Linked DNA regions of Homo sapiens: regions 1, 3, 4, 5, 6 and 7 are each linked to region 2. The links come from fine-mapping of genetic effects on gene expression. A gene starts in region 2. Each other region holds a variant in brackets. All regions are shown on one strand. Distances are from middle to middle.

The links. PIP is the estimated chance that this variant, and not a neighbour inherited with it, causes the effect.
Region 1: its variant is fine-mapped to the expression of MED19 in whole blood (TOPMed, PIP above 0.99).
Region 3: its variant is fine-mapped to the expression of MED19 in whole blood (INTERVAL, PIP above 0.99).
Region 4: its variant is fine-mapped to the expression of MED19 in thyroid (GTEx, PIP 0.98). The same link has a PIP of 0.9 or more in whole blood.
Region 5: its variant is fine-mapped to the expression of MED19 in whole blood (TOPMed, PIP above 0.99).
Region 6: its variant is fine-mapped to the expression of MED19 in lung (GTEx, PIP above 0.99). The same link has a PIP of 0.9 or more in esophagus muscle.
Region 7: its variant is fine-mapped to the expression of MED19 in lung (TOPMed, PIP 0.93).

What each region holds. Positions count from the first base shown.
Region 1 is chr11:57,655,843-57,659,907 of GRCh38, reverse strand. It overlaps CLP1 (cleavage factor polyribonucleotide kinase subunit 1), which reads right to left and starts at 2,146. Exons shown (of 3, transcript NM_006831.3): 1 at 2,048-2,146; 2 at 1-453. The coding sequence starts at 431. RefSeq lists an enhancer at 2,503-2,672. The variant C/A (reference allele first, on the strand shown) is at 2,198.
Region 2 is chr11:57,710,395-57,714,459 of GRCh38, reverse strand. It overlaps MED19 (mediator complex subunit 19), which reads left to right and starts at 2,245. Exons shown (of 5, transcript NM_001317078.4): 1 at 2,245-2,497. The coding sequence starts at 2,281. It overlaps TMX2 (thioredoxin related transmembrane protein 2), which reads right to left and starts at 1,867. Exons shown (of 8, transcript NM_015959.4): 1 at 1,653-1,867. The coding sequence starts at 1,841. It overlaps TMX2-CTNND1 (TMX2-CTNND1 readthrough (NMD candidate)), which reads right to left and starts at 1,937. Exons shown (of 21, transcript NR_037646.1): 1 at 1,653-1,937. RefSeq lists a silencer at 2,275-2,614.
Region 3 is chr11:57,676,362-57,680,426 of GRCh38, reverse strand. All of the region lies in intron 2 of ZDHHC5 (zDHHC palmitoyltransferase 5), which reads right to left. Among named protein-coding and RNA genes, the nearest start is that of ZDHHC5, 10 kb to the right of the region's middle. The variant G/TG (reference allele first, on the strand shown) is at 1,857.
Region 4 is chr11:57,869,788-57,873,852 of GRCh38, reverse strand. It overlaps LOC107984365 (cytochrome c oxidase subunit NDUFA4-like), which reads left to right and starts at 3,259. Exons shown (of 1, transcript XM_047427966.1): 1 at 3,259-3,530. The coding sequence starts at 3,282. The coding sequence ends at 3,530. The variant G/A (reference allele first, on the strand shown) is at 2,236.
Region 5 is chr11:57,784,369-57,788,433 of GRCh38, reverse strand. The region is part of intron 1 of CTNND1 (catenin delta 1); the gene reads right to left. The region is part of intron 2 of TMX2-CTNND1 (TMX2-CTNND1 readthrough (NMD candidate)); the gene reads right to left. Among named protein-coding and RNA genes, the nearest start is that of CTNND1, 25 kb to the right of the region's middle. RefSeq lists an enhancer at 3,678-4,065. The variant G/A (reference allele first, on the strand shown) is at 2,085.
Region 6 is chr11:57,828,998-57,833,062 of GRCh38, reverse strand. No RefSeq gene overlaps it. Among named protein-coding and RNA genes, the nearest start is that of CTNND1, 69 kb to the right of the region's middle. The variant TA/A (reference allele first, on the strand shown) is at 2,136.
Region 7 is chr11:57,768,901-57,772,965 of GRCh38, reverse strand. The region is part of intron 1 of CTNND1 (catenin delta 1); the gene reads right to left. The region is part of intron 2 of TMX2-CTNND1 (TMX2-CTNND1 readthrough (NMD candidate)); the gene reads right to left. Among named protein-coding and RNA genes, the nearest start is that of CTNND1, 9.1 kb to the right of the region's middle. The variant A/C (reference allele first, on the strand shown) is at 2,298.

The DNA of each region.
Region 1 (4,065 bases), 55 kb after region 2:
CGGCGGCCCAAACGCACTGCGTAGTTGAGCAGAAGGCGACACACTGTAGACTTGCCCACATCAGTGGGGCCCACTACCATCACTCGGGGACCTCGCTCTTCTTCCTTTTCCGCTTGCCTCCGCATCTGTTCCAAGGCTGTGTGAGTGTTGAGGTAAAGCAACATAGGAGTGTCCTTGGAGACATAAGCCACCTCAGTGCGGCCGCTCAGTTGCACAGAACAGCCATGCCAAGTGAAAACAGCCACCTTGGCACCAGCATCAAAGGTGAATTTCTTGTTTCGGGTCAGCTCTGTGCCAAAGATCTCTGCCATGCCAGTCAACAACTCCAACTGAACTGACTGAGATGCCTCCACCTCAAAGCGAAGTTCTGTTTCTCGCTCTAGTTCAAATTTAGTGGTTGGCTTCTTGTCATCATTAGCCTCTTCTCCCATCTCTTCTGTGTAGCTGCTGTGCCTAGAACACAAATTAAATATCAGATCTAATTATAAGTCAGTCTTCTGTTACAAAAACATCCAATGGGGCCAGGCATGGTGGCTCACGCCTGTAATCCCAGCACTTTGGGAAGCCGAGGTGGCTGGATCACTTGAGGTCAGGAGTTCAAGACTAGCCTGGCCAACATGGTGAAACCCTGTCTCTACTAAACATACAAAAAAAAAATTAGCCGGGCATGGTGGAGGGTGCCTGTAATCCCAGCTCTTTGGGAGGCCAAGGCAGGAGAATCGCTTGAACCCAGGTGGCAGAGGCTGCAGTGACCCGAGATTGTGCCACTGCATGCTAGCCTGGGCAACAGAGCAAGACTCCATCTCAAAAAAAAAAAAAAAAATCATCCAATGGGCCAGGCACAGTGGCTTAGGCCTGTAATTTCAGCACTTTGGGGCGCTGAGTTGGGCAGATCCCCTGAGCTCAGAAGTACAAGACCAGCCTGGGCAACATGGTGAAACCCCGTCTGTAGAAAAAATGCAAATATTGGCCAGGCCTGGTGGCTCACGCCTGTAATCCCAGCACTTTGGGAGGCCAAGGTGGGTGGATCACCTGAGGTCAGGAGTTCAAGACCAGCTTGGCCAACATGGTGAAATCTCAGTATTTACTAAAAAATACAAAAATTAGCCAGGCATAATGGTGGGCGCCTGTAGTCCCAGCTACTCAGGAGACTGAGTCAGGAGAATCGCTTGAACCCAGGAGGTGGAGGTTGCAGGGTTGCAGTGAGGCGAGATCATGCCACTGTACTCCCGCCTGGGTGACAGACCAAGGCTCTGTCTCAAAAAAAAATAAAATAAAATAAACAAATAAATAAATAAATAATAAAAACATACAATGAATGTTTCCCCTTACCTTGCTTTAATTCTCTCCATATTTCTTATCACCATCGGTCTCACTATATATTGTGTCTTCCCCGCCTCCTCCACCCCAAAATGTAAGACTTAGGCATTTTTGTTTGATACTATATACTGCTTAGAATACAGCTTGACAGACTGTAGGCACCTCAATACATTGAGTGAATTAATGTCTCAGACATCAGAGAAAAACCATACCTACAGACTGACAGAAGATTTAATTATATCACCCTCCATCACTCTATTGGTAAACTCCAAACTTGAGAAGGTAACAGATGCCCTGACCCCAATCATCCTAGTCAACAGGAAAGGGCGTCTGAAATACGGATGCAAAGCAGAGCACACCGGGTCTGAACTCAGAAAACAGCCTAATCCTCGTCTCTGTAACTACTAGTAGTGTCTTTAGACAATCACTTAACTTCTCTGAACCTTTGAAGCTGTCGACTGGAAGCACTTACACTTCCTCAAATACAGTGTTGTTCTTGGGGTTTACAGGAATTGTGGGAGGAAAAAAAAGCACTTCGTAAACTAGAAAACGGCAAGGAAACGATATGAATTATTTCTGATCCTGGACTGCAGCTCTAGCTCCAGCATTTGTCCCAACCTTCCCAGACACCAAAATCTCCCCAAGACACCAAAATCTCCCCAGACACCAAAATGTCCCCAGACCCCAAGGAGGTGACAGTTGTGTTCCTGCCCTTTTTTTAACTCACCTGCGCAGCCAGGAGCCCAACAGGTAAACTCAGAAGGTCCTCCCGTGCAGAATTTAAACCAAACTACAAGCGGTTCTTGCCCGGACCCACGCCGGAAACAAACGCAGTTCCGCACTTGCGCTGTGAAAGGACACGCGGTCGCGCGCTGCC[C/A]TTTGGGATGTGTAGTTTGCCGGAGCAGCCGAGAGCGGGTGCACTCGCTAAGCCGCTCGGCCTTCTGGGAGTTGTAGTCAAAGGATTGTTTTGAACGTGACGCCAAAGGTGGGAGGGGCGGCTGTTGTCATTATTCGTGCAGCCGGAGGGAGGGGTGAGGAGGCGTGGCGGTTGCGCCCCCGCGCTGGGCAGGGACAGGTCGAGGGACCAGGCTTCGGCAGTGCGCGTCCGCGGCGGGAATCTCGCCCCAGATTTCCTGCTCCCCTGCAGCCCAGGAAACAGAAGGGAGGCCCGGGAGAAAGAGAGACTCACTGTCTCGGTCTAGGTCCCGCGACGGCCTGCTTGCCTGGACAAGCCACGAAGCACAAAATCCTTTTTAGGCAGGGGGAAACCCAGGGATAGAGAAAGCGGAGGAAGACAGCCTGACAGAGGTTTCACCAAGCTGTCATCTCCCACCTGACACAGTGCTTGGCACATGGAAGGCATTTCAAATTTTTTTTCTTTAATAAAAGAATAAAAATCCGATGATTTCTTCCAGCTACAAGTCAGTCATTACCCAACAACCTCTCTCCCACTAAACGAGGATTTTTGTTAGGCACTCATTTCCCTCCATAAATCCCTGACAGTTACAGGTCAGTCATTTGCCCCGCAGCCAACAGGTTCCACCACGTCTATAATCCTCTTTTTACTACCTTGGGCTTTGGAATCTTATATTATTTGCTATACTGCTTACATTACTGTGTGACTTTGAGCAAATCACAGGCTTCATCTCTCTGAGATCGTTTTTTTTTTTCTTTTTGTTTTTGAGACAGGGTCTCACTCTCTCGCCCAGGTTGGAGTACAGTGCCGCGAACATGGCTCACTGCAGCCTCGACCTCCTGGGCTCAAGCGTGATATCGTTTTTTGTCTGCAAAGTTGGGATAATAACAGTGCCCAACCTCCTAAAGTTGTTTTGACGATTGCAGGAATGTGCCTGTAAAGTACTAAGTACAATGCCTGTAATATAGAAAAAAATCTGATATCAGCTTTTACGTTTTTATTATAGGCTGGGGCGGAAGGGGCTATAATATCATTCATTCGTGCAATACTTAACATTTTTCAGATCCCTTTCAGGCATCTTCTTTCACAGCCACCCTGTAAAGACAGCTTTATTATATCCAATTTCAGATGGGGGAGGAGACTCAGATAGGTGCAGAGGTTTGCCCAAACATTAACAGCCATTGGTAGAGCTAGGACTCAAACCCAGAGTTTCTGAGTCCGGTTATAATAATAGTAAACATTTAGGCCAGGCGCGGTGGCTCACGCCTGCAGTCTCAGCACTTTGGGAGGCCGAGACGGGCGGATCACCTGAGGTCAGGAGTTCGAGACCAGCCTGACCAACATGGTGAAACCCCATCTATACTAAAAATACAAAAATTAGCTAGGCGTGGTGGCGGGCGCCTGTAATCCCGGCTACTTGGGAGGCTGAGGCAGGAGAATCGCTTGAACCGGGGAGGCGGAGGTTGCAGTGAACTGAGATCACGCCACTGCACACCAGCCTAGGCAACAGAGTGAGACTCTGTCTCACAAAAAAAATCACATTTAAGGCAGGGCGTGGTGGCTCACGCCTGTAATCCCAGCACTTTGGGAGGCCGAGGTGGGTGGATCACGAGGTCAGGAGATCGAGACCATCCTGGCTAACATAGTGAAACCCCGTCTCGACTAAAAATACAAAAAAATTAGCTGGGCGTGGTGGCAGGCGCCTGTAGTCCCAGCTACTAGGGAGGCTGAGGCAGGAGAATGGCCTGACCCCGGGAGGCGGAGCTTGCAGTGAGCTGAGATCCTGCCACTGCACTCCAGCCTGGGCGACAGCGCGAGACTCTGTCTCA
Region 2 (4,065 bases):
ATTAATCTTCCCAATTGACTGCCCTCCAGACTCTAAAGAAACTAGTTTATAGACTATACCAGATATTAAGCTTTGTTTGTCTTGTTCCATAGAAATGTCTCTCTTATTAAATACCTGTTTGCCTACATCATATACAGAGGCCTAGCTTTGAGAACTCATCTACAATGCCATCTTCTGAAATGAGACACAACAATTTAATTGAACTGGACTATCCCCCAAAATGAGAGGCTGGTTTAATGGGATCCTTTGCCGCTCAATTACTAGCCCGATTTCTCTCTCCACAGACACCAACTCAGCTTATAGTGAAACTTCTAAGGAAGTTTCAGACAAAGGAAATAAAGAAGACCAGGGACTCACACCCCAAAATATGGCATCCTGTATGCTAATCATTTTAAATTAAAGGTCCCTGGAAACCAGCAGATACTGGAAGCAGCTTTACTCTGATAACTACCTTATCTGCCTAAAGTCCAGACCTGTCAAAGAAGACAACAATTACTTCTGGTCTCTTCCCTGAGTTTTCATTAACTTACTTCAGTACAAGAAGAAAGATGGAAGCCTGTCAACACACCTGGACAGATTTTTGTCAGAAACCATTGTCTGCTCTGCAGGCCCAACAGTCATTGTCCCAGGCCACTGTATGTTCTCCAGGCCACTGAATCACCCTAAAAATCATTTACGATCCACCTTAAAATCACCCACATTTTCCCATCTCCCATATTCCTATGAAAGAGGGTATATAAGCATCTGTACCCCACTGGGTCATTCTCCTGCAATTCCCTCATGCTATGCACGTTAAAATAAAATTTCTATGCCTTTCTCCTATTAATGTGCCCTTTGTCGGTTGATTTTTCAACAAACCCTCAGAGAGCAAAGGGGAAGCTTTTCCTTGGCCCCTACATGCTATATGGCAGAAGGGAAAGTGCTTTAAGTTTATGTTCCGAGCAGTCCCTCCACCCATACCAAGGAAGCACAGCAAGGAGCTTGGGACACTTCCCAAAGAAATCCCAAAGATTTCTTTACAACGTATTTTTTACAATTCCTTTACAGTAGCCCCCAAATTTTATCCACTTTCGCATCTTCAGGATCAAGCAGAGTGCCTAGAGTGTACACTCTAGAAATGTTTATTGAATTAAGAAGCGGCTGACAGTGTTGTGCAGGTAGTGTGGCCAGAAGAGTAGTTTCAAGTCCCAGGCACTCATTAGTTGTATGACCTGGGGCAAGTCACCTAAATATACCGAGATCCATTTCTTCACCAATGAAACAGGAATATTACTACTTGCCTTGTCTACCTTACTGGCTCCTCAGGAGGCTTTACATAATGAGCGGCACTGTAAAACGTTATACACGTGTATGTACAGTTTTGATAGGGCTGTTAATTAGTCTCAATGGTGAAACAGAAAGAAACCTGGACTCAACAGTCAAAAGCTGTTGGGCCGTTGTGCATGGGCTACGACTAACATGTTCCGTTTTCCCATCTTAAACACAAAGTTTAGACTCGATGATGGTTCGGACCCTGCACTTAATAGTCTCTAAGTCCGCTACAGGCTCGGAACCTCAGGTGTCCTCAGAGAGGTAAACCCCAGGGTTCCCAGATACACCTGCAAGGGCAGGGACAGTCAAGGTCGCGGGGTACTAACACGCGGGAGGCTCACCCAGTCAAAGTCACACGGGTTACCGTCTTCGCGTTGGGTGGGCAGACCGTGGCAGAGCGGCGGCAGTTTCCTCACGAGTAGGAAGGCAGCAGAGAGCAGGGCCGACAGAAGGTAGTAAGGTTGGGCGAGCCATCGTGAAAGTCGCGGCACCGAATACACGAGAGCAATTAGAGGTGCCAAGACCGCCATCTTTTCGGCCGTAACGGCCACTGCTCGCCGGCGTCGTAGGTCTCGCCCCGCCTCCCCCACCATAACGACTGCTATTGGGCTATATCGCAAACGTACGGCCTCTAAACCCGGATGTAGTTCTCTGAACGCTGTGGTAGGTCAGAACCCAAAAAAGAACTTAATATTTTATTGGTTAGTCTAGTTGTCGCTTTATCCGCCTAAGTCATTTTATTGGACTGTAGCAAGCAGAGCTAGCAGAAGACTCTAATAAGGTTAAATAGCACTTCCTGAACGTTCTCATAAGGCGACGGAAGTAGTTGTTGAAAAAAGGTAGGCGGTGCCTGAGGCATCCAATGACAAGCGGCTCCTTGAGAAAGGGCGGGGGGGTACTCCTTGAAAGCATTGTCCAATGAAAATTACCAACGGCAGACACGGAGACAGCGCCGGGGCGGAGGGTACGATGGAGAATTTCACGGCACTGTTTGGGGCTCAGGCTGACCCACCACCGCCCCCAACCGCACTCGGCTTCGGACCAGGAAAGCCTCCACCCCCGCCACCGCCTCCTGCGGGCGGGGGACCCGGCACGGCCCCGCCTCCCACCGCGGCCACGGCTCCTCCTGGCGCGGACAAGTCAGGAGCTGGCTGTGGCCCTTTTTACCTCATGAGGGAACTGCCAGGTGAGTACTCGGCCTTGCCAAAGCCAGCCAATCAAATCTTAGAGAGGAGGTGATGGGCGTGGCTCTCAGCCGGCTAGCGGAGGTGCGAGGTAACCTAGGCAACGCATACCCGGACTGTGGAGCCCTAAGTCGGAAGCGCTGTTAGGATTCACAAGCAGAGGGATGACTTGAATTCAACCAGGATGAGTTGAATTCAACCAAAGGGATGAATGGCGGGCAGGGGCGTAGTGCATCTCCGTTACTGTCTTTTGCACCATGTCCAGGCTGTGTCCCTGACACTGGTTTATGTCTCTCTAAAAAATGACCTAGGGCTGGGCGCGGTGGCTCACGCCTGTAATCCCAACACTCTGGGAGGCGGAGGCGGGCGAATCACCTAAGGTCAGGAGTTCGAGACCGGCCTGGCCAACATGATGAAACCCTGTCTCCACAAAAAACACAAAAATTACCTGGGCGTGGTGGCGTATACCTTTAATTCCAGCTACTCGGGAGGCTGAGGCGGGAGAATCGTTTGAACCCCGGGAGGCGGAGGTTGCAGAGAGCCGACATTGCTCCACTGCACTCCAGCCTGGGCGAACGAGACTCCGTCTCAAAACAAACAAAATCCAGGGTTTGAGTTTGGAACTCGAGAGGCCTGATTTAATATCTTTGGGGACCCAAAGTTTTAGTTACAGGTCTCCCACAGACTTGCTATTGGTTTGGGGCAAGTTGCCATTCTTCCTTCTAAGGTTCCGGCATTTCCTGGTCTGATCAAAAAAGGGATAAGAATCGAACCAAACTCTTCATTCAAAAAATTATTTTGTTGAGTACCTATGTACCAAGCACTTTTCTAAATGCTGGAGACAGTTGTGAACAAGACTGACAAGATGCTTGCCTTTTTTGGGATGTACATTTCAGTGGAGGAGGCATTGTAAACAAGATAATGTCAGAAAGTGGTTAATGCTAGGAAAAGAAAACATGATAAAAATTGAAGGTGGCCAGGCGCGTTGCTCACGCCTGTAATCCCAGCGCTTTGGGAGGCCGAGGCAGAATCCCTTGAGCCCAGGAGTTTGAGACCAGCATGGGCAACATGGCGAGACCCAGTCTCTACAAAATATACAAGATTAACCGGGCGTGGTAATGCATGCCTGTAGCCCCAGCTACTCAGGAGGCTAAGGGAGGAGAATCGCTTGAACACAGGAGGTCGAGGCTGCAGTGAACCAAGATTGTGCCACTGCACTCCAGCCTGGGCAACAGATGAGACCCTGTCTCTTAAAAAAAAAAAATTGAGGGGCAGAACTACTTTAGCTAGAGTGGCCAGAGATGCTCTCTTCACATAGCTAACATTTGAACTAAAATGTAAGCATAGACAAAGGGCCAGCCATGTATGGACAGGAGGGAGAGACAATTGTAGATACAAGAAATGAGGTCAGAAACCCTGATGTGAGAAAAAGCTTAGAATATCTGAGGGACAGAAAATCAGTTGGACTCCAGTGAAGTGAACAAAAGGAAAGAGTGTTAGGGAGAGAGATGAAGCTGGGAGAGTTAGGCAGAGGCTTTTATAAAGCAGTAAAGGCATTTAGATTGTAAAT
Region 3 (4,065 bases), 34 kb after region 2:
AGGCCCATGTCAATCTTTCTGACTCGACTCTTTCTTCAGTTTTGTTTTTTGAGACAGGGTCTCGCTCTCTTGCCCAGGCTGGAGTGTAGTGGCAAGATCACAGCTCACTGCAGCCTCAAACTCCTGAGCTCCAGTGATCCTCCCACCCCAGCCTCCTGGGTAGCTGGGACTACAGATGCACACCACCACGCCCGGCTAATTTTTTGTAGAGACAGGGTTTCACCATGTTGCCCAGGCTGGACTCAACTCTTGAGCTCAAAGCGATTTGCCCGCCTCAGCCTCCCAAAGTGCTGGGATTACAGACATGAGCCACCATGCCCAGCCAGTTTCATTTTTAGGCAAAGCAACTCAGTTTCTTGGGGATCCTGCCAACCTATCCCTGGATGATGAACTTTACCCTACAACCTTCTGGATATCAACTTGGTCCAGATAAAGTGTGTAATCCTGGAATGGAATTCCAGTATCTGTTGCCAAAATAAAGTCTGCCCCCACAGTGCCAGAATCTAGAAATGATGCAAATAACAACTTCATGGACAATATTTGCTCCTAGATTCACAGAACCATTGCTTCCAATCAGCACTATAAGGGAACACCCCACCAAGGAGAGGCATGTGTGAGCAGAGCCCGTTCTTGCCATATCCCAAATTCTGCTTGATTTAAGGAGAGGCTTTCCGTTGCTATGGTACTTTGCCAGATTCCTAGGTGACCACCCCAAGTGGCCTGTCTGAATCTGTTGCCTTTGATGGAAGATGAGGCCAGAGCTCAGAACAGGAGATGTTGGGGCTCGTCCTTAGACTATGGCAATAATCATAAAGCTCTAAAAGCCTAGGGAGTGGTCACAGCCCAGAAGGCTGGCTGACTCATTGACAGGACTACCAGACCTATACCATCTCAGGTAGAACGGGTTCTTCTGCCCATCCATTCAGCACTCCTGTTTTCAAGACCAAATAAAATTGGCAGAGTGGGGCCAGGTATGGTGGCTCACGCCTGTAACCCTAGCACTCTGGGACACCAAGGTAAGTGGATCACCTGAGGTCAGGAGTTCGAGACCAGCCTGGCCAACATGGTGAAACTCTGTCTCTACTAAAAATACAAAAATTATCCGGGCGTGGTGGTGGGCACCAGTAATCCCAGCTACTCGGGAGGCTGAGGCAAGAGAATCACTTGAACCCGGGGGGCAGAGGTTGCAGTGAGCCAAGATCGCGCCACTTCACGACAGCCTGGGCGTAAAAGCCAAACTCCGTCTCAAAATATATATACAAAATAAAATAAAAAATAAAAATAAATAAAATTGGGAGAATGGATTCCAATATCCACACTCCTGAAACCCTGTTTCAGAGCACTCCCTAATGCATCCTGTTACAAAAAAATGGTTAAGTTCTTAGAAAGAAACACAAAGTAGGAGTCAAGAATCTTTGGATTTTAATCCTGCCTCAATTAATACTTCTCTATGCAAGGCCTTAGGTAATCCACATGAAACTCTCCAACCTTGTTACTTCAGCTACATAGTACAAACATGAGAATGAAGGAGAAAGATCTTCATTCAAAAGTTATTAGAATTCATTTTTTTTGAGACAGGGTCTCGCTCTGTCACCCATGCTTGGCTCACTAAAATTGCCTCCCAGATTCAAGCAACCCTTCAGCCTTACCCTCCCAAGTAGCTGGGACTACAGGTGCATGCCACCATGACCAGCTGACTTTGCTTATTTTTTGTAGAGACAGGTCTCACTATGTTGGCCAGGCTGGTCTCGAACTCCTGGGCTCAGCGATCCTCCCGCCTCAGCCTCCCAAAGTACTAGGATTACAGGTGTGAGCCACTGCTCCCAGCCGCTAGAATTTTTTTTTTTTTTTTTTTT[G/TG]AGACAGAGTTTTGCTCTGTCACCCAGGCTGGAGTGCAGTGACGCGATCTCGGCTCACTGCAAGCTCCGCCTCCCGGGTTCACACCATTTTCCTGCCTCAGCCTCCCGAGTAGCTGGGACTACAGGCGCCCACCACCACGCCTGGCTAATTTTTTTGTATTTTTAGTAGAGAACGGGTTTCACCGTGTTAGCCAGGATGGTCTCGATCTCCTGACCTCCTGATCTGCCTGTCTCAGCCTCCCAAAGTGCTAGAATTCTTTTTAAACTAGCTGGCTTGATACTGAGCATTCAGTGGACAGAAGACAAAAGAAAACATTATTAACTATCACCATCATTATCATCATCATCAATTATTCCACCTCTACCTTCCCCTATCTGAAATACTAGGAATTCAAGGACACTTAAAACAGAGACACTAAGCTCCTAAAGAATAGGTCTATGCATTCTGCCCATGCCTAGCATATTGCTTGAGCATATGACTAGTGTTCCTTGTTGATGAGAGAAGGCTGAAATGAATGTTCCACTTCCTGCCCATGGGGATCCTCATTTAGAAATCCTTTCCTCAAGATTCCATGAGAAAACAATTTCTCCCTTTACAGGTGGGCAACCCAGTTTCTCTGAAAACACCTGATTTGTGGTACCCAGACTTTCAACCAGCTGAATGTGAGACGTAGGACCTGGGCACTTATTCCTGGATAAGAAAACAATGTGAGAAGGAAAAGGCACAACCACTGCTCCATTAATGTGCTAAATCACAAGGCTGCTCCCACTCAAATCAGGTGCTAATACCTCTGCAGTTACGGGGGAGGGGGGACCAGAGAGAACTCCATGGAGGTCGGCCAACTTCCTGTGGGTAAAAGGGTTGGAAGAGGACTGAGGCAGAAACTGAAAAGCCGCAAACTATATAATGGATGGGAGCCTGAAAAGACCATCATGGATTTCCATACAACTCTGACTTTATCCTTCCCTTAGATCACGTGAAGTGGCCAGGTGCGGTGGCTCACGACTGTAATCCCAGGACTTTGAGAGGCCGAGGTGGGTGGATCACCTGAAGTCAGGAGTTTGAGGCCAGCCTGGCCATTATGGTGAAACCCCAACTCTACTAAAAATACAAAAATTAGCTGGGCTTAGTGGCAGGCGCCTGTAATTCCAGCTACTCAGGAGGTTGAGGCAGGAGAATCGCTTGAACCCAGGAGGCAGAGGTTGCAGTGAGCCGAGATCACACCACCACACTCCAGCCTGGGCAACAGAGTAAGACTCCATCTCAAAAAAAAAAAAAAAAAAAAATCACGTGAAGCAGAGATCTTATCCTGCCCCCTCCCCACCAGCTTTAGAAATGGATAAAATAGGGGCTGGGCGTGGTGGCTCACGCCTGTAATCCCAGCACTTTGGGAGGCTGAGGCGGGCAGATCACGAGGCCAGGAGATCACGACCATCCTGGCTAACACGGTGAAACCCCTTCTCTACTAAAAATACAAAAAATTAGCCGGGTGTAGTGGTGGGTGCCTGTAGTCCCAGCTACTCGGGAGGCTGAGGCAGGAGAATGGCATGAACCCAGGAGGCAGAGCTTGCAGCGAGCCGAGATCGCGCCACTGCACTCCAGCCTGGGCGACAGAGTAAGACTCCATCTCAAAAAAAAAAAAAAAAAAAAAAAAAAAAAATCACGTGAAGCAGAGATCTTATCCTGCCCCCTCCCACCAGCTTTAGAAATGGATAAAATAAGACCTTAACTGGACTAATTCACAGTTTGATGAGACTTTAAACAAGATACAATTCAAAGTGATTCGAAATGGTGTTACCAGGAGCACTAGGTCTCAGGAGATCCTACACGGTAAAGAGGCGATACCAAGGGGCTGGGCCTCTATATGCCAGCCTCACTTGAACCAGAGCAGCCCTAATTTTTATGTTGGTTTTTTTTTTTGTATATAAGATTTCATTTGAAAAAGGGTCATGTTGCTTAAACAAACTGCTGTAGGTCAACGTTCTCACTGTAAACAGGAAGAACTTAGGTCCACAAAGGTTAACAGACTTCACCAGAATCAATCTCCTGACCTCCCCCAAAGAGGGCTTATCCCACTTACCTAGGACTGCCCCTCTGCCAGTCAAAAAACAAGATTAAACTAAGATAGATAAGCATCCAAGTAGTTATCCTAAATGAAGTCTAGTAACTAACTGGGAGGTAGAAGGTTACTTCAGCAGACACTCTCCC
Region 4 (4,065 bases), 160 kb before region 2:
CTCCCAGGTAGGGAGGTGGTGTGTTTCAAGGACCTTCCAGAGCTCTAAGCCTCCAGAGCCACCAGAGATCAAGAGGAGATGAAGCCAGCTTTATAAGCTCTGGGCAGGACCAAGATGCAACCGTAGCTTCAGTCCTGAATGCCACATCCTGTTTGCCTGAGCTGTGTGTCTTATCAAGTCTGAATGTGTGGCTACCCCAGGAACAGCTTTAGAGAGGAGAAATTGAAGATACAGGCTGGAGTGGAAGGGAGTCCCAGAACTACCCCTACGTGGCTGGCCTGGGAGGATCTTGAGTCCCCCCAGCCATCTTGAGGTATATCGGGCTGGGGAGCACCATCTGCTAAGGTTGGTATTTTTCTATTGCAGATTTTACTGCGTTCCACCAGAGCTGATTCAGAAGGCTGAGGTTGCCTGTTCTCTTCCCCTTCCCTTCAAAATCCACACCCACACCATCCCTTACTCTGTCAGCCTTTAAGCATTTCCTGAGATCCCATGGTATTCAACGGTCTTGAGCAATGTTTTCCAGCTCCCCATTCATCAGGTACGCATAATCTAACTTGGTGGAAGTTAATGTACATCAGGTACCTACCTTGTTTCCAGAAGTGTGCTGAGTACAACATTGACACGCATTGTCTTTCAATCCTCACAGAAACTGAGGCTCAGAGAGGTTAAGTAACTCTGCCAAGTTTCCTGACCCCTTCCAATGCACCTTTTGCCCGGTAAATGTTTACTGAGGTTAATTCCCAGTTCCAGGTGATCGCACTTCCCCATCTCCTCCAACTAGCAACACCTTTCTCATTCCTCAAGGCTCAGCCCCGTGCCTCCTGGTCCTGAAGTCTCCCCAGAGCACCCCAAGCTGCAATCACCCTTCCCTCAATGGGTTCCTGCTGGCAGTGGGCTCCACCCAACTTCACTCGTTTTCATGGAAGCAAGTGTGTCTCTTAACAAAATTTTAAGATCTTAAGTGGCCACAGCCGTGTCTTATGCTATTGTTTAAATACTTTGAACAACTATGATGGTTTAAATACTTTGAACAACCATAATTGTTTAAACCCTTTTGAACGACTGCAATTGTTCAAATATTTTCAGATTATAGTAGTTGTTCAAATAGTCACTGACAGCTTCTTATATAGCTTAAAACAGCCTCTGCTCTCAGAAGTTATGTGATAGGGAAGCAAAGCAACACCATGCAGGAGGGAAGAAAGACTTAGAAACATTGACAGACCCTGTTACACAATTCTAAATATGTGTGTGAGTAAAAATCAACTGCCAGATGACAACAGCACACAAAACAAGGACTCACTGGGGAAAGGGAAGTCTTACTAGAAGGACTGAGGGATGGCATTGCGGGATTATAGAGGAAGCCGGAAGGGATGATAGAGGAGACCTGGAGGGATGATAGAGGAGACCTGGAGGGATGCTAGAGGAGACCTGGAGGGATGCTAGAGGAGACCTGGAGGGATGCTAGAGGAGACCTGGAGGGATGCTTGAGGAGACCTGGAGGGATGATAGAGGAAACCTGGAAATACTCTGCACTTGGGAACCTCAAAGTACACCTGGAAGGCTGTTGCCGAGGTCACAACAATTGAGAATTATTAATAGGTGTGTCTCTGAAGGAATCAAATGGCCATATGGAAGTTGAGATGGGAGCAGTGGAGGATTAGGAGGGAATGCAGTACTGGGCCGTGGGAAGATGGTGGAAGAGAGGGATTGGGAAGGTAAACAAGAAACATTATTTGCTGGATTCCAGGAATTCAGCCTAAATATATGGCTGGGCATGGTGGCTCATGCCTGTTATCCCAACACTTTGGGAGGCCAAGGTGGGCAGACCACCTGAGGTCAGGAGTTCAAGACCAGACTGACCAACATGGTGAAACCCTGTCTCTACTAAAAATACAAAAATTAGCCAGGCATAGTGGCACGTGCCTGTAATTCCAGCTACTCAGGAGGCTGAGGCAGGAGAATTGCTTGAAGCCGGGAGGCAGAGGTTGCAGTGAGCCGAGATCATGCTGCTGCACTCCAGTCTGGGTGACAGAGCGAGACTGTCTCAAAAAAAAAATTGTTTTAAATAATAATAATGCTGAGTATGACTTTGTGAATGTGCGTGCCTAAGGGACTGGTCTGTCATCCTATCAGAGAAAAATGAAAGCAATAATACTCATTGTAGATCAGAGACTCGTGGACATTTAGATTTGAACAGAAGGAAACCCCTAAGAAAGGTAGAAAAGAATAAGC[G/A]TAAATGATACATGGGGCATCTGGGTGGAGAAACTGGGGCACAGGCCAGGAGGCTGACTGTGCTAGGTTGAACGTCAAGGGTGAATCACGGATAGGATTCTGCCACACCACCAGGACCCTGACTTTTGAGATCACATATTCTGACCTTTCCAGTAAATAGACGGTCATTCTGCGAAGGGCATGGAATGTTTCTTGAATTCTCCTACAGTCACATAATCACAGGCCCATCTCTGGGAGGGAGGGAGGAGAGGCAGCAAGGGCGGAGGCAGGGTCTTGGAGGTTTCAGTAGCCGGCTAGTTCTTCTAAGGCCACAGTCTTCAAATGAGGGTTGGTAGCCCTGAGGGTAAGTGAAGACTCTTCAAAGGGTTCACAGGCAAGACCTTCTAAGGGCACCGGTTTCCAGAACCTCAATGTCCATATCTATGCTTTCCTAAAACTGACATGCTTGAGAACACCTCTGTGATGAGAATGCTGGACTGTCTCTCATCTCCCCCTTCACAATTGCCCTTCTCCCACTTTTGAAAAGAAATGCATGCTTTTTTTTTTTTGCTTTTTTTTTTTTTTTTTTTGAGATGGAGTCTTGCTTTGTCCCCCAGGCTGGAGAGCAGTGGCTTGCTCTCAGCTCACTGCAACCTTCACCTCCCAGGTTCAAGCGATTCTCCTGCCTCAGACTCTTGAGTAGCTGGGATTATAGGCACACACCACCACGCCCAGCTAATTTTTGTATTTTTAGTAGAAACAGGGTTTCACTATGTTGGCCAGGCTGGTCTCCAACTCCTGACCTCAAGTTATCCACCCTCCTTGGCCTCTCAAAGTGCTGGGATTATAGGCATGAGCCACCACACCCAGCCAAGAAATATATGCTTCTAACCTATGCTGAATCTTATGAGAAGGCATCTCACCAGCATATGCAAATTTCCAGAATACCACACGAAGATATAATTTGATAACTAAGTATTGAAAAAGTAAATAGAGATACTGCTTAGTCCAGAGCCTATTAGCTAGGCTTGTTCTCTCCTTTCGAATCAGAGGTTTCTGCTGCAGACATGCCCCACCAGACCCTTAGTCAGACCAAGAAGAATCCGAGTTTGATATCCTGCTTCATATTTATTGGAGCTGGGAGTACTGGAGCAGCATGGTATGTCTTGTGTCTGGCATCTTTCAGTCCAGATGTTAGTTGGGCCAGAAACAATAACCCAGAACCCTGGAACAAACTGAGTCCCAATGATCAATACAAGTCCTACTCAGTGAATGTAGATTACAGCAAACTGAAGAAAGAAGGCCCAGATTTCTAAATGAAATGCTTCACTGTAAAGCTGCTTAGAATTAGGATCTTCTAGACGCCATCCACACACTTTTCCACTTAACCAGGAAATATTTCTCCTCCACAAACATGAAATCATGCTGGTGTACTGCGTTGGACATTACACTGATGAATAAATAACTGAAACGTGAAAAAAAGGAAAGAAAAAGCAACTAACTTTAGAATGCCTACAAAATCCCTTTTTTGGCTTCTTGTAGAAGGAGCCTTATACTTAACTTGGTATTTGATATAGTTTGGATGTTTGTCCCCACCAAATCTCATGTTGAAATGTGGTCCCCAGTGTTGGAGGTGGAGGCTGGTGGGAGGTGTTTGGGTCATAGGGGCTGATCCCTCATGAACGTCTTGGTGCCATCCCCACGGTAATGAGTGAGTTCCTGCTCTGTTAGTTCACACAAGAGCTGGTTGTTTAAAGGAGCCTGGCACCTCCTCCCCATTCTCTCTTGCTCCCTTTCTTGCTGTGTAACACACCTGCTCCCCCTTCCCCTTCCTCCATGAGTAAAAGCTTC
Region 5 (4,065 bases), 74 kb before region 2:
CAATAAACTCCTGAATCAATCCAGTCCCTAAGTTTAAAGAACGTGGTTGCCCTTCCCTAAATTCCTCCTACCCCAGCTCGAAGTTCCCATAATCGCCTATCAACTCTTCTTCCTTTCAGTCCAAAACCCATTGCCACTTTCTCATATTCCCACCCTACATTCCAACAGGCCACTCAAAGGTCTTTCTTGAATAAGCACCCTTATTTTAAAAAAAAAGGTGCTCCCCTTTCATCTCCATTTCTTAAGTACTTGCCCTTATCCACTATGTACAATGACCTATGAACCTTCCACACCAAGAGGACTCTGAGCTCAAAAAGAGATTCTTCCAGTTACTGAATTTCAACAGGGTCTGAAGTGCAATTACCACTCCAGCAGCATCCACCCTATAATCTTCTTTGCTAATAAAAGCCCAAATTACTGCTACCACGGGGGATACAGTGACATTCCCTGCTGCAAAGAGAAAGTGTATAGATGGCCATAAATGGCCCTGCAACTTAAATTCAGTGAAGAAGGTTAGGAAGGGAGATAGGAAAAATACTCAGGGCTCTAGGTCAGAAAGCAGTATCTGGAGAAACATTAGCTTCCACCATCTTCACAGCTTTAAAGCTGACCACCTGGCTCTAATTTGGAAAAGAAGACAGCACAATTACACAAAAAGATCAGATTCCTAGGTCTAAAAGCATGGGGAGATATTCTGCCTGAAAAAGGACAGAAGCAGAGGCCATATGGGATAGAACACAACTCAAGAAGACTGGTCCCAGTTCTGGCTCTACTACTACCCAACAATGGCAGTAAACCCTGTCATATTCTCACTTGTAAGATGCCAAATCCATTTGCCCCGTTTCCAGGAACCAAATTGGGGAAAAAGAAAAAAAATTGCTGCTTCCCAGGAGTTAGGAAATTAGCCCGGTCTAACTCAGAGTTGTTGTGAGGATTAGGTGAGACAATGTATGTTATATACAAATGTCAGGTATTAAGTTGTTTCAAAAGTTGGTTTAACACTTCCAATTACATTACTTCACCGTAATGTCTCAGCCTCAAACTATTTTGTGAACTAGTAGATGAAATCAACTGGATCAAAAACATAACTAGGTTCTAAGGAGTGAATGGGCTGGTTTCCCTACTCCTAATCTATTTACTAGAACGTCCCACCTATACCAGTGTTTCTGGGACAAAGGACACTTCTCTAGTGCCTGGAAGTCATCACATCATTACACATCTGTCATAATAAGTTCTTGATTCTGTATTTGAGGCCTTAACAATTTATTACCTTGGAGAAAGGGAATGTGAAACTAATGATTACTGAATGTTTTACATTTACTATCTTGGCAATCCTTACAACAACCCTAAGGAAGTTTTATTGCAAATAAGACTCATGGGTGAAGAAACTACCCAAGGTCTCACAGTTAATAGCAAATTTTGAATTTAAACCCAGGTCTATGCCATTCCAAAGCCTGTGTTCTCTTTCTATGCCATGGTGTCAAGTCCAAATAGAAGTGCAGTCAGTACCAGATGGATGGTCCAGAGCCTCTCCTCTACAACCTTTGAGAGCTTTCTTCTCAACTATCACAGGAAAACAGGGAAAGAAAAGGGTTCTACTTTGTTTTTTTAGGCTCAAGAGTTACCCATAATATCTACATAGAAGTGAGAAAACAGAAAAAAAATGGGAGGAAAAGGAATGTATGAGTGGGGAAAGAATGAAGCTGTTAGGCAGGCTACAGTAAATGGTCTCATCGCTTGGAGACTTAAGGAAAAAAGATTCTTCTCATGCCATATGCATCAAAAAGATCACACTACAAACCTTCAGCTGACTTTGGCAGACAGTCAGGAGTCGTAATTACAAGTCCAGCCCAATGCCTTTCCAGCTTTGCCACTTACATTTTTTATTTATTTATTTTTTTGAGATGGAGTCTCGCTTAGTGGCCCAGGCTGGAGTGCTGTGGTGCAATCTCAGCTCACTGCAACCTCCACCTCCTGGGTTCAGGCGATTCTCCTGCCTCAGCCTCCCGAATAGCTGGGATTACAGGTGCATGACACCACACCGGGCTAATTTTTTGTATTTTTAGTGGAGACGGGGTTTCACC[G/A]TGTCAGCCAGGATGGTCTCGATCTCCTGACCTCATGATCCGCCTGCCTCAGCCTCCCATAGTGCTGGGATTACAGGCGTGAGCCACGGCAGCCGGCCTCCACTTACTTAGATTTTTAAATAGACTACATTTCCTCTCACCAAAAAAAAAAAAAAAAAATCAAAGAATTCCTGAAGTCAGGGGGTTGAGGAAACATAAAGTGAAACTTGTTATTCCCCCTTAAGACTAGATTTTCTGAGAATACCTAGTTTTACTCTCAATAAGCCATTAAGTCCTACATTACTGGATCCCACCCACACTAGAAAGATATTCCTGCTATTACCCAGAGTCCATAGTCCATAGTAAAGATCCTTCATCCAAGCAATGATAATGATAAAAACTCAGTCTCGTCTGTAAGAACTCCCAACCAAAAGAAGTTAAATTAAATCAAATACCCAGAAGGACCAAACAACTAGACAGTGCTAACCAGATAGGAGGTCCAAAAAACAAAAAAATCACTTACCGGCCGGGCGTGGTGGCTCAAGCCTGTAATCCCAGCACTTTGGGAGGCCGAGGTGAGCGGATCACAAGGTCAGGGGTTTGAGACCGGCCTGACCAACATGGTGAAACCCCGTCTCTACTAAAAATAAAAAATTAGCCAGGCTTGGTGGTGCACACCTGTAATCCCAGCTACTCAGGAGGCTGAGGCAGGAGAATCACTTGAACCCGGGAGGCGGAGGTTGCAGTGAGCCGAGATCATGCCGCTGCACTCCAGCATGGGTGACAGAGCTAGACTCAGTACCCCACACACACACACACACAAAAAAATCACCTACCAATAGCACAGTCCCTGGAATGATTTCTTCTACTGTAAACTGACTAAAGAAATACAATTTGGAATTATGATTCTTAAGAGGTTAAGTGTATAGGCTTTGTTATCTGCCTGGGTTTAAGTATAAGATCTATCCTTATTAGCTATATGACTTTGGGCAAAGTATCAACCACTCGAAACTGCAGCTTCCTTTTTTGTAAAATGGAGGAATAAAAATACACAGGGTGGTTGTGAAGATTAAATGAGGCATTTCATGTAAAGTGCTTAGAAAAATGTCTTGACGCACAGAAAGCCAGTAATATTGTTACTACTACAGGGACTAGAGCTTGGGTGTGGTTGGTGGAGTTTTTGAAGTTTGTAAACCAGCCTCCCCAGGCTCCCCTCTTTCATTTGCAGCAGACCTGAAAACTACAGGAATTATTCACTTTTAGAGGGAAAAACAAAATAAAACTCCAGATTAGGGGTCAAAAGACTGGGGGTCCAAGTCTTGGCTCCTCCAAAAACTAGCTAGGAGACCTTGGAAAAGTTATAACCCCTGTAAGCTTCCATTTCTATTACTCTTCATGGTTTAGTTTTAATGAGCTAATATATATAAAACCATAGCCTATGTGAACTCTGAAGTTCACCAATCTTTGGGTTTTTGCAAAAATAATTTTGTCTTCAGAGCCAGTCTCAAAGGCAGCTCTCCTCCTTTCTTCCTATTTATTCATTATAAAATCAAAACCAATGTCATGGCCGGGCACCACGGCTCATGCCTGTAATCACAGCACTTTAGGAGGCTGAGATGGGAGGATCACTTGAGTTCAGGAGTTCGAAACCAGCCTGGTCAACATGGTGAAACCCCATCTCTACTTAAAATACAAAAAAATTAGCCGGGCATGTTGGCACACACCTGTAATCCCAGCTATTCAGGAGGCTGAGGCAGGAGAATCACTTGAACTCAAGAGACAAAAGTTTCAGTGTGCCGAGATTGTGCCACTGCACTCCAGCCTGGATGACAGAGTAAGACTCTGTCTCAAAAACAACAACAACAAAACGAGTGTCACAAATTTATGCTCTCCATCTAAAAACAATGACAGGCAAAACTCCATTTCCATGTCGTTCTAGGGAATTTTTTTTTTTTTTTTTTGAGACAGGATCTAGCTCTTGTCGCCCTGGCTAGAGTGCAGT
Region 6 (4,065 bases), 120 kb before region 2:
GGAGCTACTAGATCCCAAATATACCATTTTTAAAAAACTTATTACAGGGAATTCTAATTTTAAATTTTAAATAATATACAGAAAAATCAAACAAAATACTATAATGAAACTTGGTGTACCCATACCCCAGCTTGAATTACCCATAGCCAATTGTGTCACTTATAGCCTCATCTACTCTTCTCCCATACTACTTAGAAGCAAATTTCCTCATCATAACATTTTATCCATTAAAATTTCAGTACATTGCTCGAATTTACAATGAATTAATCATAACCCATGATACCACTGTCATATCTAAAAATAATAATCCCTGAGTAACATCAAATATCCAGTATTCGAATTTCCAATTGTCTCATAAAATGTCCTCTTTATGTTAGAATCCAAATAAGACGCATGCATTGAGACTGATATTTTTTAATCTATAGGTCTGTCTCCACTTTTTTTCTTCTTGCAATTAATTTATTAAAGAAATTGGGTCATTTGTAATTCCTCCCATGTTGCTAGTTACATCCTTATGGTATAGTTAAACATTGCCCCCATCTTCTGTGTTTCCTATAAAATAGTATTTGGATCTACAAGTTTGATCAGACTCAGGCTTGATATTTTTTTAAACTACTTCATAGGTGATACAGATCTCTTTTTGTGATGTTAGCAGCTGTTGATGCTCAATGCCTAAGATCCCTTTATTAGGGATTGCAAAATGATAATATTATATTTCAATCACACCTTCAATTATGAGATGAAATGTTTCTATAAAGAGAAACTTCCTCTTGCCTATGTGGACACCTAATGAACAGCATTCTTTTTATACCTCTGTACTTTTGCACATTATTCTATCTGACTTGAATGACTTCACACCTTCTCCAACTGATGGAATCCTAATTATCCTTTCAAACGAACCAAAATGTCACCTCAGTGAAGCCTTGCCCTCCTTCCTGGCAGAAGTCAACCATCTTCTAAATGTTAAAAAGAAATCATTATAGTAATGCTTACCTCATTAATGAATTTACTGCCTTCATCCCTGGGATCAGAGCTCCTCAAAGACAGGAATAGCCTTAGGCCCTAGCATCTGTATGAAGTAGTTTCCCATCACTAGTGGCATCATAACGGTTGTAGTATCATAACACAATGCATTACTCATGTATTTGTGGTGATACTGGTGTAAACAAACCTACGGCACTGTCAGCCATATAAAAGTATAGCACATACAATTATGTACAGTACATAATACTTGATAATAATGAATGATTATGTTATTGGTTTATGTATTTACTATATTTTATTATTTTGAGTATATTCCTCCTACTTATTAAAAAAAGTTAACTATGCCAGGCAGGGTGGCTCACGCTTGAAATGCCAGCATTTTGGGAGGCCAAGGCAGGAGGATTGCTTGAGCCCAGGAGTTCAAGACCAGCCTGAGCCTGGGCAACATGGTGAGACCCCGTCTCTCCAAAAAAAATACAAAACTTAGCCTGGCATGGTGGCATGCACCTGTAGTCCAGCTACTTAGGAGGCTGAGATGAGAGGATCGCCTGAGCCTGAGGAGTTCAAGGCTGCGGTGAGCCAAAATCGTGCCATTGCACTCCAGCCTGGGCGAGACAGCAAGACACTGTTTCAAAAATAAAAAAAGGTTAACTGTAAAATAGCCCCAGGCAGGTCTCTTCAGCAGATCTTCCAGAAGAAAGCATTATTGCCATAGATGATAGCTCCATGCACGTTATTGCCCCTGAAGACCTAGTAAGACACAATATGGAGGTGAAAGACAGTGATGATCCTGACCCCATGTAAGCCTAAGCTAACACGTGTGTGTGTGTGTCTTAGTTTTTGGCTTCTTTGTGTGATTGATTCATTTTGAGAGACAGGGTCTTATTCTGTCATCCAGGCTGGAGTGCAGTGGCTCACTGTAACCTGGAACTCCTGGGCTCAGGGGACCCTCCTGCCTCAGCCTCCCAAGAAGCTAGGACTACAGGAGTGCATCATTGCTCCCAGCTAATTTTTTCATTTTTTTTGTAGAGACAGGGTTTGCTATGTTTCCCAACCTTGTCTTGAACTCCTGATCTCAAGCTATCCTGCCACCTTGGCCTCCCAAAGTGCTGGAATTATGTCTTAGTTTTTAACCAAAAAAAAAAAATTTT[TA/A]AAGTAAAATAACAAAATTTAAATAGAAAATAGCTATAGAATAAGGATATGGAAGAAGAAAATATTTTTGTACAGCTGTACAATGTGTTTGTCTTAAGCTGTTATTACAAAAGAGTCAAAAGTTTTTTTTTAAATTTTTAAAGTTTGTGAAGAAAAGCTATAGTAAGCTAAGGCTAATTTATTACTGAAGAAAAATGGTTTATAAATTTAGTGTAGCCCAAGCGTACAGTAATGTCCTACGCCTTCACATCCACTCACCACTCACTCACTGACTCACCCAGAGCAATTTTCAGTTCTCAAGCTTCATTCACGTAAGTACCCTATGCAGGTAAACATTCTATGTTTAGACGTGCAAATACTTACCATATTACAATTGCCTACAGTATTCATTATTACTATAATAATGGTACACACATGCTGTACAGGTTTGTAGCCTAGGAGTAGTGGGCTATACCACATAGCCCAGGAGTGTAGTAAATGGTACCATCTAGATTTGCATAAGGACACTCTATGATGTTCCCACAACAATGAAATTGCCTAACGATGCATTTCTTAGAACATATCCTTGTGATTAAGTGATGAGTGACAGTACTGATGGGGTCAGGGTTTCACTTTTTAAGTCAGTTTCATGTAAGCAACACTATGGAATGCAGGTTACAAAGCAACTGGCAATGAGGTACCATCACAAGAATATGAGTTACCAGAATTCAAGACACTCTACAGGAAGTAAAGGCGAAGTCAGAGCTGAGATACTGAATGTCCACAGTCAGACATTAGAGAGGCCCAGAAAGGAGAGTTTGGGACCTGATTTCTCCAAAGTACAGAGAAGACATGATGAGAATCAGGTTGAGCCAGGGTCATTCCTGGGAATTCCATCAGAAACAAGTTAGAAGCAGGCTGTAGCCTTCAAACGGCTGGCTAGGACTCAAAGCCAACTGCATTCCACCTCCTTCCTCTGCACTCATTTCACAGTGTCAGGACTGTAGGCTTTGGGATGGCAGGCAGAGCAATCCCTACCTTCAGATAAGATGCAGGTTTAAAAAGCCAAAAATCCTCTGTGTTATGTTCCGAAGGAAGGGGTGGACAGGATACTTAGCATCTCTGCCCAGGGGCACAGAGCAGTAGGAAGCATATTTCCAAATCCTCTGGGGAAGTGAGTTGGAGGCTGATAAGGCTGAATTGTCCAGAGAGGGGGCAAAGCGGCCATACTGTCTGCTCATCCTAACCACAGGATCATGGGCTCTGGACTGAGGTTCCATACTGGGAAAAATGTCTCCTAAGTGGGCTATAGACTTCCATGTTGGCCACAAAAAGATTGCCCAGAAGCAGGAAGATACCAGGTCTAAAATGGCACAGACTTATAATGGTAAAATAGGCAATCACGAGGAAAACAAGGAAGACTAATATGCACTATGGTAGAAAGATGTCCATGACATGCTTTATGGGAAAAAAACAAAATTGCAGAATATGTACATCATACATTCCATTAGAAATAAATGTTTGTGGCTGGGCATGGTGGCTCACACCTGTAATCCCAACATTTTGGGAGGCTGAGGCAGGTGGATCACTTGAGGTCAGGAGTTCGAGACCAGTCTGGCCAACATGGAGAAACCCCATCTCTACTAAAAACAAACATTAGCCGGGCATGGTGGCCCACACCTGTAATCCCAGCTACTTGGGAGGCTGAGGCAGGAAAATCACTTGAACCTGGGAGGCAGAAGTTGTAGTGAGCGGAAATCAGCCTGGGCGACAGAGCGAGACTCTGTCTCAAAATAAAAAATAAAAAAGAAGTCTTTGTTGAATAAGCACTTGGAGAAAGATATCTGAAAGGATATGTAACAAATGGTTAAGAGTAGTTATTCCTGGGGAGTGACATAAAAGAGAGGCAAGAATTTTAATTCCGTAATCTGCCGTGTTAAATCATGTTAT
Region 7 (4,065 bases), 59 kb before region 2:
CAGATGACAACCAGATAAGCATAATTAAAGGAAAGAACAGAGGGTAACCAGGTTAAGAGCCAGGGCTAAAAACTCCAAAGAGAGAGGAGGAGACGGGTGAGAGAAAGAGAGAGAAAGAGGGAGAGGGAGAGAGAGAGAGGAGACAGAGCGAGACAGAGAGAGAGAGAGAGAACGAGACAGAGACTCTCACTGAGGGACAGACCAGCTAAACCAGAAATCTTAAGAGGGAAAGTAACAGTGTGTGATTCAAGACATAGGTATTCAATCAAATATCCTTTTACTTTCGTATATGCATGGAACATCAAATCACTAAATAGTTGGTGCTTCTTCCTCAACTCCAAAGTCAACTAGGTAAAGTGGCTCAGGATGTGCTTTAATAACCTCTAATGCCTAAACAAACATAAGGAAAGTTAGTTTCAGGGATAATCATCTCTCCCAATGTGCAAGACAGAAATACGGATATGGTGACCTATAAAGGGGTCCTCAAAGCCATGAATTCTCAACAATCAGGGCATGGGGAAACAGGAGCTTTTTGGTCAAATGAGCAAAAGGAGAAGCAGCAGACAAGTGGGGCAAGCCTATTTGGTCAAAAGCACATAAACCAAACCAATAAATTTTGTCCTCAAAAGGAAACTGTACAGGTCTAGGCTGTCACTCCTGCTTATAGAAAACTGACTAGTTAGATAAGAAGATGGAGAAATATACAGTATTTCTCTTGGAAAGAAAAATTTGGGGGCTGGGCACAGTAGCTCACACCTGTAATCCCAGCACTTTGGGAGGGCGAGGCAGGCAGATCACTTGAGCTCAGAAGTTTGAGACCAGCCTGGGCAACAGGGAAAAACCCTGTCTCTACAAAAAAAAAAAAAAAATACAAAAATTAGCTGGGTGTAGTAGTGCATGCCTATAGTCCCAGCTACTCAGGAGGCTGAGGTGGGAGGATGGCTTGAGCGTGGGAGGCGGAGGCTGCACTGAGCTGAGATTGTTAACACTGCCGAGACAGACCTTGTATCAAAAAAGAAAAAAAAAAAAGAAAAAGAAAAATTTTGATCCCACTTCCCAAAAACATATCAGCTTATTCTAAGTAGCTGCCTTATTATCATTCTCTAAGACAAAGGTAATCAACCTATGCAAAATCTGCTACTATGCAAATTATCTGCTAACTATACTTTCATGGAGATTCCACAATGGGAGAAATATGGAGGTTGGGTCAGGTGCTACCTCAAGTTACAAGAAAGACACAAAAATTCGGTAACAGCCGTTGTCTCTGGGGTTTGAAGTGGAGATAATTTTTCTTTGTACAATATAGTATACAACAAGACCCTACATTATTCCCCTTCCCCCAAAATACATTCCCATTGGTCCTCTCTGGACAGGTCTCTTACTTCTCCTTCCCTCCCCTCAATCTCTTTTGTTCATTGGCAATAACCAGCCTCAGGGCCTTTGCACTTCCTACTCCTCATATCTACATGACTCCATCCTCCATTTCTCTTGGTCTCTCTCAAACATACCTTACACATGAGACCCTCCCTGACCACTCTATATAAAATAACCTCACCCCCACCCTGAGACGTTCTTTCCTCCATACTACTCATTCTACTTTACTTTTTTCTCAATAATATTACCACACTCTGACATACTACATATTTACTCGCTTATTATTTGTCTCTCACAACTAGAATGTAAGCTCTTTGAGAACAAACAGTAGGTCTATTTTGTTTATTGTTGTACTTCAGTGTATGGCATAAACAGACTCTCAAATTTCTTTTGAATGGAGATGTTTTACTTCCTTCTTCAATGAATACAAAAAGTTAAATTTTAGAAAAAAAAAACAACTTTCTTTTCTTTTTCTATACTTTTTTTTTTCCAACTGTGATCTTAGTTAGGCCTATGAAGAGGCCTAGGTAGTCTTACCTGCCTATTTGGCTGACCTTCAGCACGGTAGACATCCAAGAGGCCAACTGTGCCCCAGTTAACAAAGTAGTCAATAGAGAGCAGAACAGCAATGAGGTTACAGAACTTCCCCCATTCCAACAAAGCAGGAAATAAATCAGATTGGCACCAATTTCTCTTTTAAAATAGGCTATTTTAAAAGTGTACTGAATATACACCAGCTACTTTATTTCAATGAGATTTACTTCACTTGCAATGAAATGGGAACTGCAGGTGCTTTGATAAAGGTATTGAGAAGTTGACCTAGTTTCTATAACAATGTCTTATGTCCTCAACCATGAGAATATATTTTAGTTTCTTAAAATATGAGCTTCCTAAAACAAAAATCTTTTCTTTTCTTTTTTTTT[A/C]TTTTTTTATTTTTTTTGAGATGGAGTCTCACTCTCTCGCCAGGCTAGAGTGCAGTGGCGCGATTTCGGCTCATTGCAACCTCTGCCTCCTGGGTTCAAGGGATTCTTCTGCCTCAGCCTCCTGAGGAGCTGGGACTACAGGCATGTGCCACCACGCCCAGCTAATTTTTGAAATTTTAGTAGACACAGGGTTTCACCACGTTGGCCAGGATGGTCTCAATCTCTTGACCTCGTGATCCGCCTGCCTCGGCCTCCCAAAGTGCTAGGATTACAGGTGTGAGCCACCGAGCCCAACCGTGTAACAAAAATCTTTCTTTTTTTTTTTTATTTTTTATTTTTGAGACGGAGTCTCACTCTGTTGCCCAGGCTGGAGTGCAGTGGTGCGATCTCCACTCGCCGCAACCTCCACCTCACAGATTCAAGCAATTCTCCTGCCTCAGCTTCCCGAGTAGCTGGGATTACAGGCGCCCGCCACCACGCCCGGCTAATTTTTGTATTTTTAGTAGAGACAGGGTTTCACCATTTTGGCCAGGCTGGTCTCAAACTCCTGACCTCAGGTGAACCACCTGCCTTCGGCCTCCCAAAGTGCTGGGATTACAGGCATGAACCACCACCGCGCCCAGCCACAAAAATCTTTTCACTCCACAAAGATACCTCCTAATGTGCTACTGCACTACAACATAGAACAACATAGAAAGCATAAATAAAACAGATGATTTACTCCGGAGAAAGTAATTTTTTTTTTGCTCAACTGTCAACTAAACCAAAATGAGTAATTAATCAAGAAATGCAGATGAAATCTAAAAATCAAAGATAAAACCAATCTGAATCACTAGAAGAGATCAGTCTTCTTGGATTACAATTGTATGCCTAAACTAGATCTAACTGAAATGAAGTGGTATCCTAACAGTTGTACCTTTAGCACATGGGTACAAGAAACAGAAATACGTCTTTATGTTAACTGTTAGTGAGGCAAAGCAACGCCCATGAAGACCTAAGGGAAAACCTAAAGGGAAAAAAAGGAAACCCAACCTAAAAGAAAAAAAAGATAGGGGAGGCAAGAGGAGGCAAAGAGAGACAAAGGAAGACACCACAGAGAACAGGAAAGCAAAAGAAAAGGAGAAAATACAGGAGAATTGGTAGAAGAAATTATAGGTAAAATAAATGTGAGGAACTGAATGTGGGAGGCTACAGAGTGCCAAAAGAAATTAGCTTAAATAGCCAGGCAAGGTGGTGTGTGCCTGTAGTCCCAGCTACTCCAGGGGCTGAAGTAGGAGAATCACTTGAGCCCAGGAGTTGGAGACAGGGCAACATACCAAGACTCTGTCTCTCTGTTTTTTTTTTTTTGAGACGGAGTCTCGCCCTGTCGCCCAGGCTGGGGTGCAATGACATGATATCGGCTCACTGCAACCTCCACCTCCCGGGTCCCGGGTTCAAGCGATTCTCCTGCCTCAGCCTCCCGAGTAGCTCAGATTACAGGCATGCACCACCATGCCCAGCTAATTTTTTTTTTTTTGTATCTTTAGTAGAGACAGGTTTTCACCATGTTGGCCAGGCTGGTCTCAAACTCCTGACCTCAAGTGATGCGCCTGCCTCAGCCTCCCAAAGTGCTGGGATTACAGGTGTGAGCCACCGCGCCCAGCCTCTGTCTCATTTTTAAAATAAAAATGTAAAAAAAAAAAATTATTCAAAGAAATTGGCTTAAGTACTATTTAGAACACTAGTTTCATGGGTTCTTAAGTATGAAGAAAAGGGAGGAAAAGAGAAG